2 separate regions of the Homo sapiens genome follow, and region 1 is linked to region 2. The links come from fine-mapping of genetic effects on gene expression. Tissue or cell type: skeletal muscle. Region 2 holds a variant in brackets; the other region holds the start of a gene. All regions are shown on one strand. Distances are from middle to middle.

The links. PIP is the estimated chance that this variant, and not a neighbour inherited with it, causes the effect.
Region 1: it holds the start of A4GALT, and the variant in region 2 is fine-mapped to the expression of A4GALT in skeletal muscle (GTEx, PIP 0.97).

The regions. Positions count from the first base shown.
Region 1 is chr22:42,717,708-42,725,794 of GRCh38, reverse strand. A4GALT (alpha 1,4-galactosyltransferase (P1PK blood group)) reads left to right here and starts at 4,925. Exons shown (of 3, transcript NM_017436.7): 1 at 4,925-4,998. RefSeq lists silencers at 4,826-5,015, 5,046-5,275, 5,356-5,485.
Region 2 is chr22:42,667,868-42,675,969 of GRCh38, reverse strand. No RefSeq gene overlaps it. Among named protein-coding and RNA genes, the nearest start is that of CYB5R3, 23 kb to the right of the region's middle. The variant T/C (reference allele first, on the strand shown) is at 3,737.

The sequences.
Region 1 (8,087 bases), 50 kb before region 2:
AGGAAATGCCTGTTGAAATAAATTGCTGGAAAGCCACCACACCACGAACCGTGCAAATTGTCAGACTGTTCTTTCCCATGTGGATATGAAATCTGCTTTGGAGCATGGGCCCAGTGGGGCTGCAGGGAGCCCACCACCTTCCAGGACCACTACTGTCTTAGCCAGGACTAAGAGTTATGGACTGAGACCTATTAACTGAGGGCCCTTAGGCAAGGCTGTGCCTGGCTCCTTAAGCCCCAGGGTCCTCCTGGGTAAGGGGTGCCCCTGGAAAGGGCTTAGCAAGTGGTAGGAGTTCACCCCAACAGTAACTATGCCAGTGCTTTATCCTTCCCTTATTGCAGGTAGACCAAAGTGGCCACAGGCTTTCTATTCAACATTCACAACCAGATGACCAGCTCCAGTTTACTGATGGGAGAGAAACCCATTGGTTCAAAGAGTTTAAGAATTTCAGCCTAGCTGGGCGCGGTGGCTCACGCCTGTAATCCCAGCACTTTGAGAGGCCGAGGCGGGCGGATCACAAGGTCAGGAGTTCGAGATCAGTCTGGCCAACACAGCGAAACCCCGTCTCTACTAAAAATACAAAAAAAAAAAAAAAATTAGCCGGACGTGGTGGCCGGTGCCTGTAGTCCCAGCTACTTGGGAGGCTGAGGCAGGAAAATGACGTGAACCCGGGAGGCAGAGCTTGCAGTGAGCTGAGATCGCGCCACTGCACTGCACTTCAGCCTGGGCGACAAAGTGAGACGCCGTCTCAAAAAAAAAAGAAATTCAGCCTAGAAGCTGGGCGAGGTGGCTCACACCTGTAATCCCAGCACTTTGGGAGGCCAAAGCGGGAGGATCATTAGAGGTCAGGTGATCAAGACCAGCCTGACCAACGTGGTGAAACCCTGTCTCTACTAAAAATATAAAAAAATTAGCCAGGTGTGGTGGCGGGCACCTGTAATCCCAGCTACTCGTGAGGCTGAGGCAGGAGAATCACTTGAACTCAGGAGGCAGAGGTTGCAGTGAGCCGAGATTGCGCCATTGCACTCCAGCCTGGGTGACAAGAGCAAAACTCCATCTCAAAAAAAAAAAAAAAGAGCCAGGCATTGTGGTGCACACCTGTGGTCCCAGCTACCCAGGAGGCTGAGGCAGGAGGATCACTTGTGCCTGGGAGGTCAAGGCTGCAGTGAGTTGGAATCACATCACTGCACTCCATCCTGGGCAACAGAGTGAGACCCTGTCTCTAAATAATAATAATAATAATAATAAATCCCAGCCTGAGTAAGAGTGTCTCAAAAAAAGAAAGAAAAAAAAATCTGCCCACACCCACCCTGCTAAGAGAGGCAGATTCAACCCCAGGCAGATCACTCTCTTCTTTCACAAGCATCCCAGCCCTCTCCATCTCCAACCAGAAAGCCAGCCACGAGCCATGCCTTCCCTTCCTCTCAGAGCCTGTGTGCTCAACCTTAGGAGGAAAGGGACCTGCCAGGGTGCTAGGAGGGAGGGAAGAGGGGAGCACTGGGCTCAGAGGCGGAGGGGGTGCTCCGGGGGTCAGGAGAGCCCAGGGCAACATGGGCCAGGCTGTGCTTCCAGGGCAGAGTTTCACAGATGAGTGAACTGAGGCCAGGGCAGGTCAGACACATAGGCTCTTTTGTCCCCTGCTTCCTCCTTCACGCCCTGGCCTCTGAAGCTCTCCCTGCAGTCGGGACAGGTCAGGCTAGAAAATAATTTGGCCTCAAAGGCTGCTGGGGCTTTGGGGGTCAGGCAAATTTGAATTCCAACCTCTGCTTGTTTTTTCCTTTCTTACCTTTATTTTGAGATAGGATCATTTTATGTTGCCCAGGCTGGTCTTGAACTCCTGGGTTCAAATGATCCTACTGCCTCAGCCTCTGTGAGCTTAGGTTAATTTCCATCTTGGGCTCAGTATTTTTCTTTTTTCTGGGACGGGGTCTCGCTCTCACCTAGGCTGGAGTGCAGTGGCATGATCTCGGCTCACTGCAATCTCTGCCTCCCAGGTTCGAGCAATTCTGCCTCAGCCTCCTGAGTAGCAGGGATGACAGGCAGGCACCACCACATCTGGCTAATTTTTGTATTTTTAGTAGAGATGGGATTTTGCCATGTTGGCCAGGCTGGTCTTGAACACCCGAGCTTAGGTGATCCGCATGCCTCGGCCACCCAAGTGCTGGGATTACAGGCTTAAACCACTGCACCCAGCCAACAGCCTCCGTTTTTTTTTGTTTGTTTGTTTTTGAGATGAAGTCTCGCTCTGTCGCCATACTGGAGTGCAGTGGCATGATCTCAGCTCACTGCAACCTCTGCCTCCCAGGTTCGAGTGATTCTCCTGCCTCAGCCTCCCGAGGAGCTGGGACTACAGGGGCACGCCGCCACGCCCAGCTAATTTTTGTATTTTTAGTAGAGACGGGGTTTCACCATGTTGGCCAGGATGGTCTCGATCTCCTGACCTCATGATCCGCCCGCCTTGGCCTGCCAAAGTGCTGGGATTACAGGCGTGAGCCATTGCGCCTGGCCCAGCCTCCGTTTTTTTCATCTGTAAAATGGGGATAACAGGGTGACCTCAGAGGGTTGTGAGATTAACAAGCTGCAAGGAGACCGTTTCCCCAGACATAGCCAGGAAGAGCTTGTGGGTCTGGGCACAGCTCCAGCGATGGCTATTCTAAGAAAGCCATTCCCTTCTCAATTCTCTTTAATCCCTTTGCTTAAGTCCAGGGGCAAGTCTTTGCTGGGTGCTGGCCTGCCTTGAATATCTCTCTACACCTTTCGAATCTTCCTTTTTTTTCTTTTTTTGAGACGGAGTCTCACTCTGTCGCCCAGGCTGGAGTGCAGTGGCGCGATCTCGGCTCACTGCAAGCTCCGCCTCCCGGGTTCACGCCATTCTCCTGCCTCAGCCTCCTGAGTAGCTGGGACTACAGGTGCCCGCCACCACGCCTGGCTGATTTTTTTGTATTTTTAGTAGAGACGGGGTTTCACCTTGTTAGCCAGGATGGTCTCGATCTCCTGCCCTTGTGATCTGCCCGCCTCGGTCTCCCAAAGTGCTGGGATGAATCTTCCTTTTAACAAGGAGAGGGCAGGAGGAACTCAGCTCTTGGAGGGGCAACAGGACCTACCCGGGCTTTATAACATTGTTTTAGTTTTATTTTTACTGTTGCCTTCTAGTCTCTGAGATACTGGTGTTCCATTTAGGGTAGCAATACAAAGTTTCTCTGAAAAATACATTTGTGATCATGGAAAAGCCAACATAAAGCAAAAGCATTAAAAGTATTACAAGTGGGCCAGGTGCCGTGGCTCACATCTGTAATCACCACACTGTGGGAGGCTGAGGCGGGTGAATCACTTGAGGTCAGGAGTTCAAGACCAGCCTGGCCAACATGGTGAAACCCTGTCTCTACTAAAAATACAAAAATTAGCCATGGTTGTGCATGCCTGTAGTCCCAGCTACTCAGGAGGCTGAGGCAGGAGAATCACTTGAAACCAGGAGACAGAGGTTTCAGTGAGCCGAGATGGTGTCACTGCACTCCAGCCTAGGTAACAGAGTGAGTCTCTTCTCAAAAAAAAAAAAAAAAAAAAAAAAAAATGAGTATTACCAGTGGAGAAAGGGTCCGCATTCATTCTTTTTTTTTTTTTTTTTTTTTTTTTTTTTGAGACAGAGTCTGGCTCTTGTCACCCAGGCTGGAGTGCAGTGGCATGATCTAGGCTCACTGCAACCTCCACCTCCTGGGTTCAAGTGAGCATGTCCAGCTAATTTTTGTATTTTGTAGAGATGGAGTTTCACCATGTTGGCCAGGCTGGTCTTGAACTTCTGATCTCAGGTGACCTGCTTGCTTTGGCCTCCCAAAGTGCTGGGATTACAGGCGTGAGTGCTTGCCTGGCCTCTTGTTTCCGTTTTAAGATGGGAGAAGTAACAGCCTGTGATGGGAATGACCCAGGGAGAATGGAGAGAGGGCAGGGTTTCGGGATCAGTGTTGGCGTGAAGGGTCGGGATCTTCTGGAGGGGGTGGTCGTGGCCAGGAGCTGGACGGGTTCAGCCCGGTCCCAAGAGGGAAGGGACTGGGTGCTACCTCAGCGGGTGGGTGGGGGAGCTGGTGGGAATTTTCTACTGATTCCTTCATTCGAAGTGTATTTATTGGGCACCCATTGAGTGCCAGGCTCTTTCTCAGGGCTAGGATAGAGGTTCCATTTTCTCAGTGGCTTGGGCACTGGGTCATCAGCTGAGTGAGAGGATGGGCGTCAGCACTCAAGAAGTCACCCAATGGTTTCATTTTTTGCAGTCTTTGTTGTCCCAGAGGAGTAAGAACTAAAAGCACCAGGACTGTGACATGCTGGAAACATGGCATGTTCCAAAGAGAATAAAATACAGTTTTATGATACACGAATTGTGTGTGATACATTCCAATTTCTCACATTGAACAAATTACCAATAGCAATATGTGTGAAGATGGGGCGAGGTGAGAGTGAGGAGGAGGAGTAGAGAAAGGACGGGGCGGCGTTAAGGATACAGCAAATAACTGGAATTCCGCAAACACTGGGGTGATGCAGGCAATGCCCTTAGCACGGTCCCGGCAGGAGGCGGTGGGATCAGGCCGACCCGGGTCCCAGGGGTGACAGCGTCCCTTCTCCACTGCAGAATATCGAGGTACTCAACCCTCTGAACCTCAGTTTTCTCATCAGTTCAATGGGGAAAACGGGATGGTAACCCGTAATACTGGCGGCGCGGAGGCCGGGGAGCGCTCCCTACCTGTTGGCCGGCGGACTGGGGACTGTCCGCACCCGCCCCGGGGAGCAGCGAGGGCGCGCGGGCGGGGTCGCGGGGACCCCGCAAGGGCTCTGGGGACCGGGACCCGCAGGGTAGGTCGGGACGGGCGGGGCGGGGCGGCCTGACCCCGCCCCGGGCCGGAGGGGCGGTGCTGCCTCCCGCCGGGCCCCAGGCACTGCCCTCCGGCCGCCGCGCCGCCCGCCCGCCGGGGCCCCGCTGTCCGCCGCCCGCCGCCGCTGGAGCTAGAGGTACGAGGGGCCGCGCCGATGTTGCGGGGGACGGGGGCTCCAGGGGGATCCTGCGGCTCGCAGTGGGGAGGAGGCGCCTCGGGAAGGCAGGGGCAGGGGCGGAGGGGCTGGGCCGCCGCCCTAGCCCGGGCCACCTGTTCTGGAGGCGACATTTGTGCGCGCACGAACCCCGCGCGGCGGTCCCGGCCACCGCCTCCACCCCAACTGCGCCCCGAAGTGGAGCGCGGCGGCGGGACCCGGAGCCCCGGCCCTCGCGGGCAGGACGCGCCTGGCTCCGGAGCCCTCGAGGGCAGCCCCACCCGGTTGGGTCCCGGGGCTGGAGAGAGGGCGTCGGGGAGAAGCCGGGTTCGAGGCAGGCTCTGCCCGGCCACCGTGGGTGAGTCGCGCTCCTCCGTCCGGGGGAAGCCTGGGCGTCGGGCGGTGCTCGCCCCGGAGCGGATGCGACCGGGGACGGGGATGGAGAGCGGCCGGCAGGAGGGGGCTCTGCCGGGCTGGCAGCGTCGGCGCCGGCCTTAGGGAGGGTGAGGATTTGGACCTGCCCAGAAGCGGGAAGGGCCCTCCCCGTGCGGGAAACGGCCTGGGTACGAGCTGGGCACGGGGCGAGCCGGTTGGAGTCGCCCGGCCTCCGCGCTCGCCTCGGATCCGCAGGCGCCCCTCCCTCCTCTCCAGCTGGGGAAGGTTGAGGACTGAGCGGGAGCGGAACTGGGCTTGGGAGAGGATCTGCCGGGGCACCTGGTCCCAGCGCCCATCCCGTTTCACTGCCAGGGCGAGTCCCCTTCCCTCAGTTTCATCACCTGTCATCCGGAGGGACAAGTTCCCACCTGGATAGTCTCGGCTGAGCCTCTGGCCCTGAGTGGGTTAAAGCGCCATTTCCCCTGCACCCACCTTTCCCTCACGACACCCTCTCTGCGGCTTCCTCCCCTCCGCCAACGTCGAGTGATTGTTCCGCGAAGGCCCCTTGGGGTCACGTACCCTGCACTCAGCAAATAACCCCGAGCACCTGGTGGGTCTCAGGCCAGGTCTGGCCTTCCCGTTCCCGCCACCAGCTGCCCAAAGACTTCCCCTTTGTCACCTCCTCCCAAAGAATGAGGGAGCCACCCTGCCCAGGGTCCCATAGCAGAGTGCGGATGGAGCCAGGCCTCCCTCAAGATTTCCCACAGCCCTCTTCCAGCCTCAAACCTTCTCCAGGACCCGAAACCCTGCTACACTGTGTTTCCATAGCTGCAACCCCCCAAAAGAGGGTCCCCAAATCAAAGGAATACAAAGGAAAACAAAATAGAAAGGAAAAGAAAGGAAGAGGAGAGATGGAATCCTCTCTGTCATTAGTTTTCTGTTTGTTTGTTTTTTAGGGTCTCCCTCTGTCACCCAGGCTGGAATGCTGTGGCAGCTCACTGTAGTCTCAAACTGCTAGGCTCAAGCGATCCTCCCACCCCAGCTTCCCTAGTGGCTGAGACTGCAGGCACACACCACTACACCCAATGTTGTCATTAGTTTTTCTCTCAAACATTTTTCTAATGCCTTGGGTGCCTGTCGTTTCTTGTCTGCTAGGACAGCTCAGTATTAGAGGATAAACTCCAAAATGGACAGCCATCTACAAAATATGTTTTGTTTCCTTGTACTAATTGAAGCCCTCTAGCTGCTAGGTTAATGGGTCCATTAATTTCCAGTTCGTGTGATGGGCCCTGGGACCCCAGTGTGGAGCAGGATTGGCAGAATCTCCAGGTGGTTTGTGTGGAACACCAGGAGGTTGTGAACTACCACATCAGCCCCAGCTAGCAACTCCCAAGCCCACCTGGCCACGGGGCCACTGGGTTCAGACCTCCAAGGATGCAGTTCAGCTGGGGATGCAGGTCCCGGAAGGTGGTGGCAGGTGGACGGCCTCCACCACCAAGCCAGCCATCTGAGTTCTGAAGTGCACCTCCTCTCACTCTCCCCAGCTGCCTCCTTCTTTGGGGACCTGCTAGGCGTGCTCACAAACTCCTGTTGATCACCCTGCATTTTCATTGGCTCACCGCATGCTTCCCTCCAGATTGGAAGCTCCTGGAGGGAAGGACCCTTGTCCAGATCCCAGAGCCTAGTGCCAGGCCTGGCACCTAGCAGGTGCTTCCTGAATATTGTTTGAATGAATTAACCGAAAGAAGTAGGAAAAACAATTCCTGTTTGCATACTTGAAGACAACTATTGTTAACATTTGCCTTTTTTTTTGCCAGACCTTTAAAAACACGTTTTTCCAGCCGGGCGAGGTGGCTCACGCCTGTAATCCCAGCACTTTGGGAGGCTGAGGCGGGTGGATCACTTGAAGTCAGGAGTTCGAGACCAGCCTGGCCAACTTGGTGAAACCCCCCATCTCCACTAAAAATACAATAAATTAACTGGGCGTGGTGGCACGTGCCTGCAATCCCAGCTACTCAGGAGGCTGAGGCAGGAGAATCATTTGAACCTGGGAGGCAGAGAGTGCAGTGAGCCGAGATGGCGCCACTGCACTCCAGCCTGAGCAACAGAGCGAGACTCCGTCTCCAAAAATAAATAAATAAATAATAAAATAACACGTTTTTCTGTATTTGCATATCTTGTCTATATAAAATATTTTTCCATTAGTATAATTTCACGAGCATTCCTCATCGCAGACATTTTTTATATTTTTCAATGCTTGCATTTTGCTATGTCATGTTGAGTTATTGGATCTCTTGACTTTTTAAAAATATATTTGGCTCTTTTTGATAATGTTACATTGAATTTCTGCATACATTTATACATGGCCACATCTTTCCTGGGAAGGAATTAACCTGGTAATCAGTGCGTATGAACTTCTAGAATGGCTGTATCTGGACCCAGCTAGATATTTCTTCGTATTTCCTAGAAATGAAACTCCTGGGTCAGAGTACGAGAAGCCAGGTTCTTTGTGTGTTGCTTATTGATTGGTTTGAGCTCATCAGTAAGGTTTTACCCCTTGTCTGGTCTTTGTGTGCCAAGGATCTTTCCCCAGTTTATCATTTGGCTCTTATTTGTGGGTGTGTTTGTGCGTGCGTGGGTGTGTGTGTGGGTGTATGTCTGTGAGACAGAGAGATAGAGAGGAGCAGCAAGTTTTT
Region 2 (8,102 bases):
GCCTGGGCAACATAGCAAGATCTGTCTGTATTTAAAAATCTATATATATTAGCTGGCATGGTGGCATGAGCCTGTAGTCCCAGCAACACAGGAGGCTGAGGCGGGAGGATCACCTGAGCCCAGGAGATCAGGGCTGTGATGAACAATGATGAACTGCACTCCAGCATGAGCAATAGAGTGAGACTCTGTCTAAAAGAAAAGAAAGGAAAGGAAAACTCCGAATCCAGTCCAGAGCCTTGAAACTTTGGGTTTCCTCAGCCTAACCAAAACCTGTCCTATCCTATAACCACTGAATTTCAAGACTGGGAGGGGCTGGGCTCGGTGGCTCACACCTGTAATCCCAGCACTTTGGGAGGCCAAGGTGGGTGGATCACTTGAGGTCAGGAGTTCGAGACCAGCCTGGCCAACATGGTGAAACTGTCTCTCCTACAAATCCAAAAATTAGCCAGGCGTGGTTGCAGGCGCCTGTAATCCCAGCTACTCGGGAGGCTGAGACAGGAGAATTGCTTGAACCCAGGAGGCGGAGGTTGCAGTGAGCCAAGATGGCACCATTGCACTCCAGCCTGGGAGCTAGAGCAAGACTCCATCTAAAACAACAACAACAACAACAGCAACAAAAAAAAACAGAAACAAACAAACAAACAAACAAACAAACTGTGAGGGACCATAGACCATAGAGATTTACTGGTCCAGCTGGCACATCCCTAGAGAAGCACACATCTCCCACTTTAAGACAATCTGGGCCGGGCACGGTGGCTCACGCCTGTAATCCCAGCACTTTGGGAGGCCAAAGCAGGCAGATCATGAGCTGAGGAGATCCAGACCATCCTGACTAACACGGTGAAACCCCATCTCTACTAAAAAAGTTTAGCTGGGCGTGGTGGCACACGCCTGTAGTCCCAGCTACTCAGGAGGTTGAGACAGGAGAATTGCTTGAACCCAGGAGGTGGAGGTTGCAGTGAGCCAAGATCGCGCCATTGCACTCCAGCCTGGGGGAGAGAGCGAGACTGTCTCAAAAAAAAAAAAAAAAGACAATCTGTAAGTTACCACACAGTACCATACAGAATACCCAGGAGACCCACACAGGGAGGCAAACACCCTCCATTAATAATGGCCTAAAGGGCCGGGCGTGGTGGCTCACGCCTGTAATCCCCACACTTTGAGAGGTGGAGGCAGGCGGATCACGAGGTCAGGAGATTGAGACCATCCTGGCTAACACAGTGAAACCCCGTCTCTACTAAAAATACAAAAAAATTAGCCAGGCATGGTAGCGGGCACCTGTAGTCACAGCTACTTGGGAGGCTGAGGCAGGAGAATGGCATGAACCCGGGAGGCGGAGCTTGCAGTGAGCCGAGATCAGGCCACTGCACTCCAGCCTGGGCGAGAGCGAGACTCTGTCTCAAAAAAAAATAAAATAAAAAATAAAATAAAATAATGGCGTAAAGAAGGTGGAACTGTATTTCCCTCTGAGGTAAGAGACCAGAGGTGGGCAGTCAGGGCCCAAAGATTGATCTTCTCCCCCAAAGTCATCCAAACACCCCAGACTCCTGCAACCCTGCTCTGTTCCTTAACACTCAGCTCTCATCTCATGGTCCAAAGCAGCTGCTCCAGCTCCTGCTGTTGCACCCACACTGAGCCAGCTGACTTGACCCAGAGATCATTATGTCACTTCTTTCTTCTCTTATCCCATTGGCCAGCCCTTACTGCCCGTCCTTGCAAGAGGATCTGGGAAAAACAGTTGCTAGGTAGGGAGCCAGGTGCTGACCTGAAAACCCCATTGTGGTGTATGACAGTGGAGTGGGTGCTGGGGAGGAACTAGCCAGGTCTGCTAGAGAGGTTTCCTCTGGGAAAAATCCAAGTCATTGTATGCCATGATTTCCCAGAATGCACTATGCTGCAGCATGAAGAATGTCACATTTTGTTTTATTTGAACTCCCTAGCATCTTGGGCACAATTCCACTTTGTTGTTAATGCCAAATCCACTTCCCAAGGCAAAAATGTAACGGTTTTTGGACTTTGCTACTGGCTCAGAGTCAGACTGCTCAGATTTAACTCTGGGCCCTCTTCCAACAGCTGTGTGGCTGTAGGCAAGTTACCCACCTGCTTGTGCCTCAGTTTCCTCACCTGTAAAATGGGGATAACAACTGCTTCTGGCCAGGCACATTGGCTCATGCCTGTAATCCCAGCACTTTGGGAGGCCGAGGTGAGCGGATCACTTGAGCTCAGGAGTTTGAGACCAGCCTGGCCAACATGGTGAAACCCCGTCTTTACTAAAAATACAAAAATTAGCCAGGCATGATGGGGTGCGCCTGTAATCTCAGCTACTCAGGAGGCTGAGGCAGGAGAATCACTCTAACCCAGGAGGCAGAAGTCACAGTGAGCCAAGATCATGCCACTGCACTCCAGCCTGGGCAACAGAGTGAGACTCCATCTCAGAAAACAAACAAACAAACAAACAAAAAACACAATTGCTTCTACCTCATATGATTTCATGTGGGTGGCCAGGTGCGGTGGCTCACGCCTGTAATTCCAGCACTTTGGGAGGCCGAGGCGGGCAGATCATCTGAGGACAGGAATTTAAGACCAGCCTGGCCAATATGGTGAAATCCCGACTCTACTAAAAATAAAAAAAATTAGCCGGGCAAGGTGACGCACGCCTGTAATCCCAGCTACTCGGGAGGCTGAGGCAAGAGAATCGCTTGAACCCGGGAGGTGGAGGTTGCAATGAGCCAAGATTAGGCCACTACACTCCAGCCTGGGTGACAGAGCAAGACTCCGTCTCAAAAGAAAAAAAGAGATTGCGTCTGGGAGCACCCAGCACAGCACAGGCACATAGAAACAGCTCAATGAATCCTCTGTCCCCTGAGCCACCAGTCCCATCTCTGAATCTCAGCTTCTTCATTTGTGTAATCAGGGGTGTGGTAGCTGATCTCCAAAGATGGTTTCAAATAATTCTTCCCCTTTCTGCACACATACACCAGTCCTAACAAGAGGTATCTGGAGGCCAAAGCCACTCCGTCTTAGATGCTAAGCTGCCATGTTGACTTCTGATTACCCTCAGTTCCAGGACTACTTTATCTACTGTTAAAAACACGTACCTCCAGCCCTGGCAACATAGTGAGACCCCATCTCTACAAAAAAATAATAATAATAATTAAAAATTAGCTGGGCATGGTGCGTGTGCCTGTAGTCCCAAACCGTTCAGGAGACTGAGGCTGGAGGATTGCCTGAGCCCAGGAGTTTGAGTCTGCAGTGATCTATTATCCCATCATTGCCCTCCAGCCTGGGCAACAGAGCGAGGGCCTGTCTTTTTTTCCTTTGAGATGGAGTTGAGCTCTGTTGTCCAGGCTGGAGTGCAGTGGTGTGATCTTGGCTCACTGCAACCTCCACCTCCTGGGTTCAAGCGATTCTCCTGCCTCAGCCTCCTGAGTAGCTGGGATTACAGGCGCCTGCCACCACGACTGTCTAATTTTTGTATTTGTAGGAGAAACAGGGTTTTGCCATGTTGGCCAGGCTGGTCTCGAACTCCTGACCTCAGGTGATCCACCTGCCTTGGCTGCCCAAAGTGCTGGGACTACAGGTGTGAGCCACCGCACCCAGCCAACAACCTGTCTAAAAAAAAGAGTGTGCACGTAGTGTAAATCCTGCCCGTAGGTCAAAACAACATTATCCTGCCCTTAGTCAAATTACTTCAATTGTCTTACAAACTTCTTCTAAAGTATGTATACAATTTCTC[T/C]ATGGTATTTAAAGCCCTGGGTCTTGGGGGTAGGGGCACAGGGATCCATCTAATCTCGTGGCCTCCTGAGACATGGCTTCTGTGTGTAAGTCTTTAGTAAATGTTTCTTTCTGAGAAAATGCATTTGTTAGCCTCTTTCTTTTCTTTTCTTTTCTTTTTTTTTTTTTTGAGACGGAGTCTTGCTATGTCACCCAGGCTGGAGTGCAGTGGCGCAATCTTGGCTCACTGCAAGCTCCGCCTCCCAGGTTCACGCCATTCTCCTGCCTCAGCCTCCCCAGCAACTGGGACTACAGGTGCACGCCGCCACGCCTGGCTAATTTTTTTGTATTTTTAGTAGAGACGGGGTTTCACTGTGTTAGCCAGGATGGTCTCGATTTCCTGACCTCGTGATCCACCAGCCTTGGCCTCCCAAAGTGCTGGGATTACAGGTGTGAGCCACCGCACCCAGTTGGCAGCCTCTTTCTTTGAGGCTTTCTTTGAATCTCTCAGCTTCCTGGGCCTTTGGGAGTAGGTTTGCACAGACCTGCTCACCACAGAACAACATGGAACTTACATCGAATTCCCTGGGTCCAGCCTGGACCTGGCACAGTGGCAGAAGTAAGGATGTGCCACTCGGGGCCTGACCATTAAGAGAACAGGAAGTTTCCACTTCCTTTCTCGGAACCCAAATACCGTGCTGCGAGGAAGCCCGACTGACATCACCTTTGCAAAGATTATGACGGCCAGATAAGTCTAGCGCAGCTGACTCCATCCTGCTTCCAGCCTCACGGGCTGGCTGGCCTTAGGCATTCCTGGGCGTAGGCCAAACTAACCCTGGGAGAAATTTAGTTTATAGTTTGTTTGTTTTCTTTTTCAACATTTATTCTAGGTTCAGGGGGTGCATGTGCAGGTTTGTTGCGTGGGTAAATCGTATGTGGCTGGGGTTTCCTACACAGATGTTTTCATCAGCCAGGTGGCAAGCACAGTACCTGACGGGTAGCTTTTCCATCCTCACCCTGCTCCCACCCTCCACCCTCAAGTAGGCCCTGGTGTCGGTTGTTCCTCTCTTTGTGCCCAGTTTAATTTTTTTGTTGTTGTTTTGTGGGTTTTTTTGGTTTTTTTTTTGTTTGTTTCTTTGCTTGTTTTTCTTTTTTTGAGATGGAATCTCACTCTGTCGCCCAGGCTGGAGTGCAGTGACGTGATCGCAACTCACTGCAAGCTCCGCTTTCCTGGGTTCACACCATTCTCCTGCCTCAGCCTCCCAAGTAGCTGGGAGTAGCTGAGACTACAGCCACCCGCCACCATGCCTGGCCCATTGTTTTGTGGGTTTTTTTAGATGGAGTCTCGCTCTGCTGCCCAAGCTGGAGTGCAGTGGTGCGATCTCGGCTCACTGCAACTCCACCTCCGGGGTTCAAGGATTCTCCTGCCTCAGCCTCCCAAGTAGCTGGAATTACAGGCATGCGCCACCACGCCCAGCTAATTTTTGTATTTTTAGTAGAGACGGGGCTTCACCATGTTGGCCAGGCTGGTCTCAAACTGCTGACCTCAAGTGATCCACCCGCCTCAGCCTCCCAAAATGCTGGGATTACAGGCGTGAGCCACTGCACCTGGCCTTTAGGTCCAGTTTATAGTTTAAAGCAAAGACAGTAATAGTCCCTCCCTAAAACTGCTTCCTTCCTTGCTTGGAAACTGAAACCACCTTTGCTAAACTAAAGAAAAGTCCATGAGATTCGGATAACAGAGGGGCCTGAATTCTGCTAAAATGTAGACCTAGTTTCCATCATCCCTTACTGCTCAGGAGTCATATGGCCAAGATTCATGACGTCCCCAATGGCTCCTATAGACAATGTCACTATTGTAGAAACGGAGATTGGTTTTTTGAGATGTTTTTCACACTTTTGCATTCTGACAACCTACTGACCCCACCTGGATCTATGACGACTCATGACTCAACCAGTCCGTGTCCCCCACCCAGGGGTGGACTCAGAGCACAAGGATTGTTCCCACCCACTTCTGAGTGCATCCCCAACCAATCAGCAGCACCCATTCCCTACTACACCCTCCTCACCCCCCTTCACTCCCACCCCCCAACTGCAAACCAAATTATCCATTAAAAGCCTAGCCTCTGAGTTCCTGGGGAGGCTGATCAGAGCAATCATAAACTCCTGTCCTTCCAGTTGGCCAGCCTTGCATTAATTAAACTTTCTCATCTTTTTTGGGGGGTGGGGTGGGGGTGGAGTCTTTCTCTGTCACCCAGGCTGGAGTGCAGTGGCACGATCTCGGCTCACTGCAACCTCCACCACCCAGTGATTCTCCTGCCTTAGCCTGCTGAGTAGCTGGGATTACAGGCACCTGCCACCATGCCCAGCTAATTTTTTTGTATTTTTAGTAGAGACGGGGTTTCACCATGTTGGTCAGGCTGGTCTTGAACTGCTGACCTCATGATCCACCCACTTTGGCCTCCCAATGTGCTGGGATTACAGGCGTGAGCCACCGCACCCGGCCAATTAAACTTTCTTTACTGCAACAATGCTGTCTCAGTGAATTGGGTTTATCTGTGCAGCGGACAAGACGAACTCCTCAGGCAATTTCACAAGCAGCTCCATGGATAGGTCCACACGGAGGGTAACAGTGGCTCCCAGCCACCCCGCAGTCTCCCAGGCAGGAGAATGAGCCATCTTGGAGGTGGGCCTTCCAGCCCAGTCAAGGTATCCCAGCTGATGCCACATGGAGCTAAGAGATGGCCCTGCTGAGCCCACAAAATTGCAATACTGTGGCCAGGTGCGGTGGCTCATGCCTGTAATCCCAGCACTTTGAGAGGCTGAGGTGGGAGGATCACTTGAGCCTAGGAGTTAGAGACTAGCCTGGGCAATACAGCAAGACACCATCTCTATTAAAAAATATATATAGGCCAGGCACGGTGGCTCATGCCTGTAATCCCAGCACTCTGGGAGGCCAAGGTGGGTGGATCACCTGAGGTTGGGAGTTCGAGACCAGTCTCCTAGCCAGGAGACCAACATGGAGAAACCCCGTCTCTACTAAAAATACAAAATTAGCCGAGAGTGGTGGCAGGCGCCTGTAATCCCAGCTACTGGGGAGGCTGAGACAGGAGAATCACTTGAACCCGGGAGGTAGAGGTTGCAGCGAGGTGAGATCATGCCACTACTCTCCAGCCTGGGCAACAAGAGCAAAACTCTGTCTCAAAAAAAAGAGAAAAAAAAAAAAGAAAAGGAAAGAAAAGAAAAGAAAAGAAAAAAATATATATATACACACACATATATAGCAATATTGTAAGCCAATGAACAACTATTGTTTTGAGCTACTGAATTTTGGGGTGGTTTGTTATGATCAATGACCGGAAGACAGTGTGACACGTAAAAGTAGGGTGGTACAGAAACAAAAAATACACCTGGCATTGGTTTGGGGACCAGAGAGTAGAAAGGACCTTGACAAAACTGTTAGTGAAAGCTTAAAGAACAGTGAGGAAATTACTTTTTTCTTTTTTTTTCTGAGATGGAGTTTCACTCTTGTCGTCCAGGCTGGAGTACAGTGGCACATCTTGACTCACTGCTCATTTGCCACCATGGCCGGCTAATTTTTTTGTATTTTTAGTAGAGACAGGGTTTCACCATTTTGGTCAGGCTAGTCCCGAACTTCTGACCTCAGGTGATCCACCTGCCTCGGCCTCCCAAATCACTGGGATTACAGGCATGAGCCACCACATCTGGCCCAATATAGAGTTTTTTTATTTTTATTTTTTTTATTTTTTGTTTTGTTTTGTTTTTGAGAGAGTGTCACTCTGTTGCCCAGGCTGGAGTGCAGTGGTGCGATCTCAGCTCACTGCAACCTCCACCTCCCGGGTTCAAGCAATTCTCCTGCCTCTGCCTCCTGAGTAGCTGAGATTACAGGCATGCACCACCATGTCCAGCTAATTTTTTTGTATTTTTAGTAGAGATGGAGTTTCACCATGTTGGTCAAGCTGGTCTCGAACTCCTGACCTCAGATGATCTGCCTGCCTCGGCCTCCCAGTGCTGGGATAACAGGCATGAGCCACAGCGCCCAGCCCAGGAAATTACTATTGGAAGCTGAAGAAAACAAGGCCCAGTTATGTAACCCAAGTGAGATATACTGGAACGCTTGTTTTAATCACCTCTCTTGACTTCATCAGTGCAGGAGGGATTCCTGACCTAGGATTATGGCAATGGCTGAACACAGGACACCCGAATCTGGACAGAAGAGATCCAGAGCAGTTTATGAGTCACATGTACTCACAGCTCAGGAGAGGAGGACACACTCTGCAGGGCCACACAGGGCTTGTGCCTGGTACCAGTGGACCACAAGAGGCTTTGTAGTATCAAGAGGGTAAGGGTGGCCGGGCGTGGTGGCT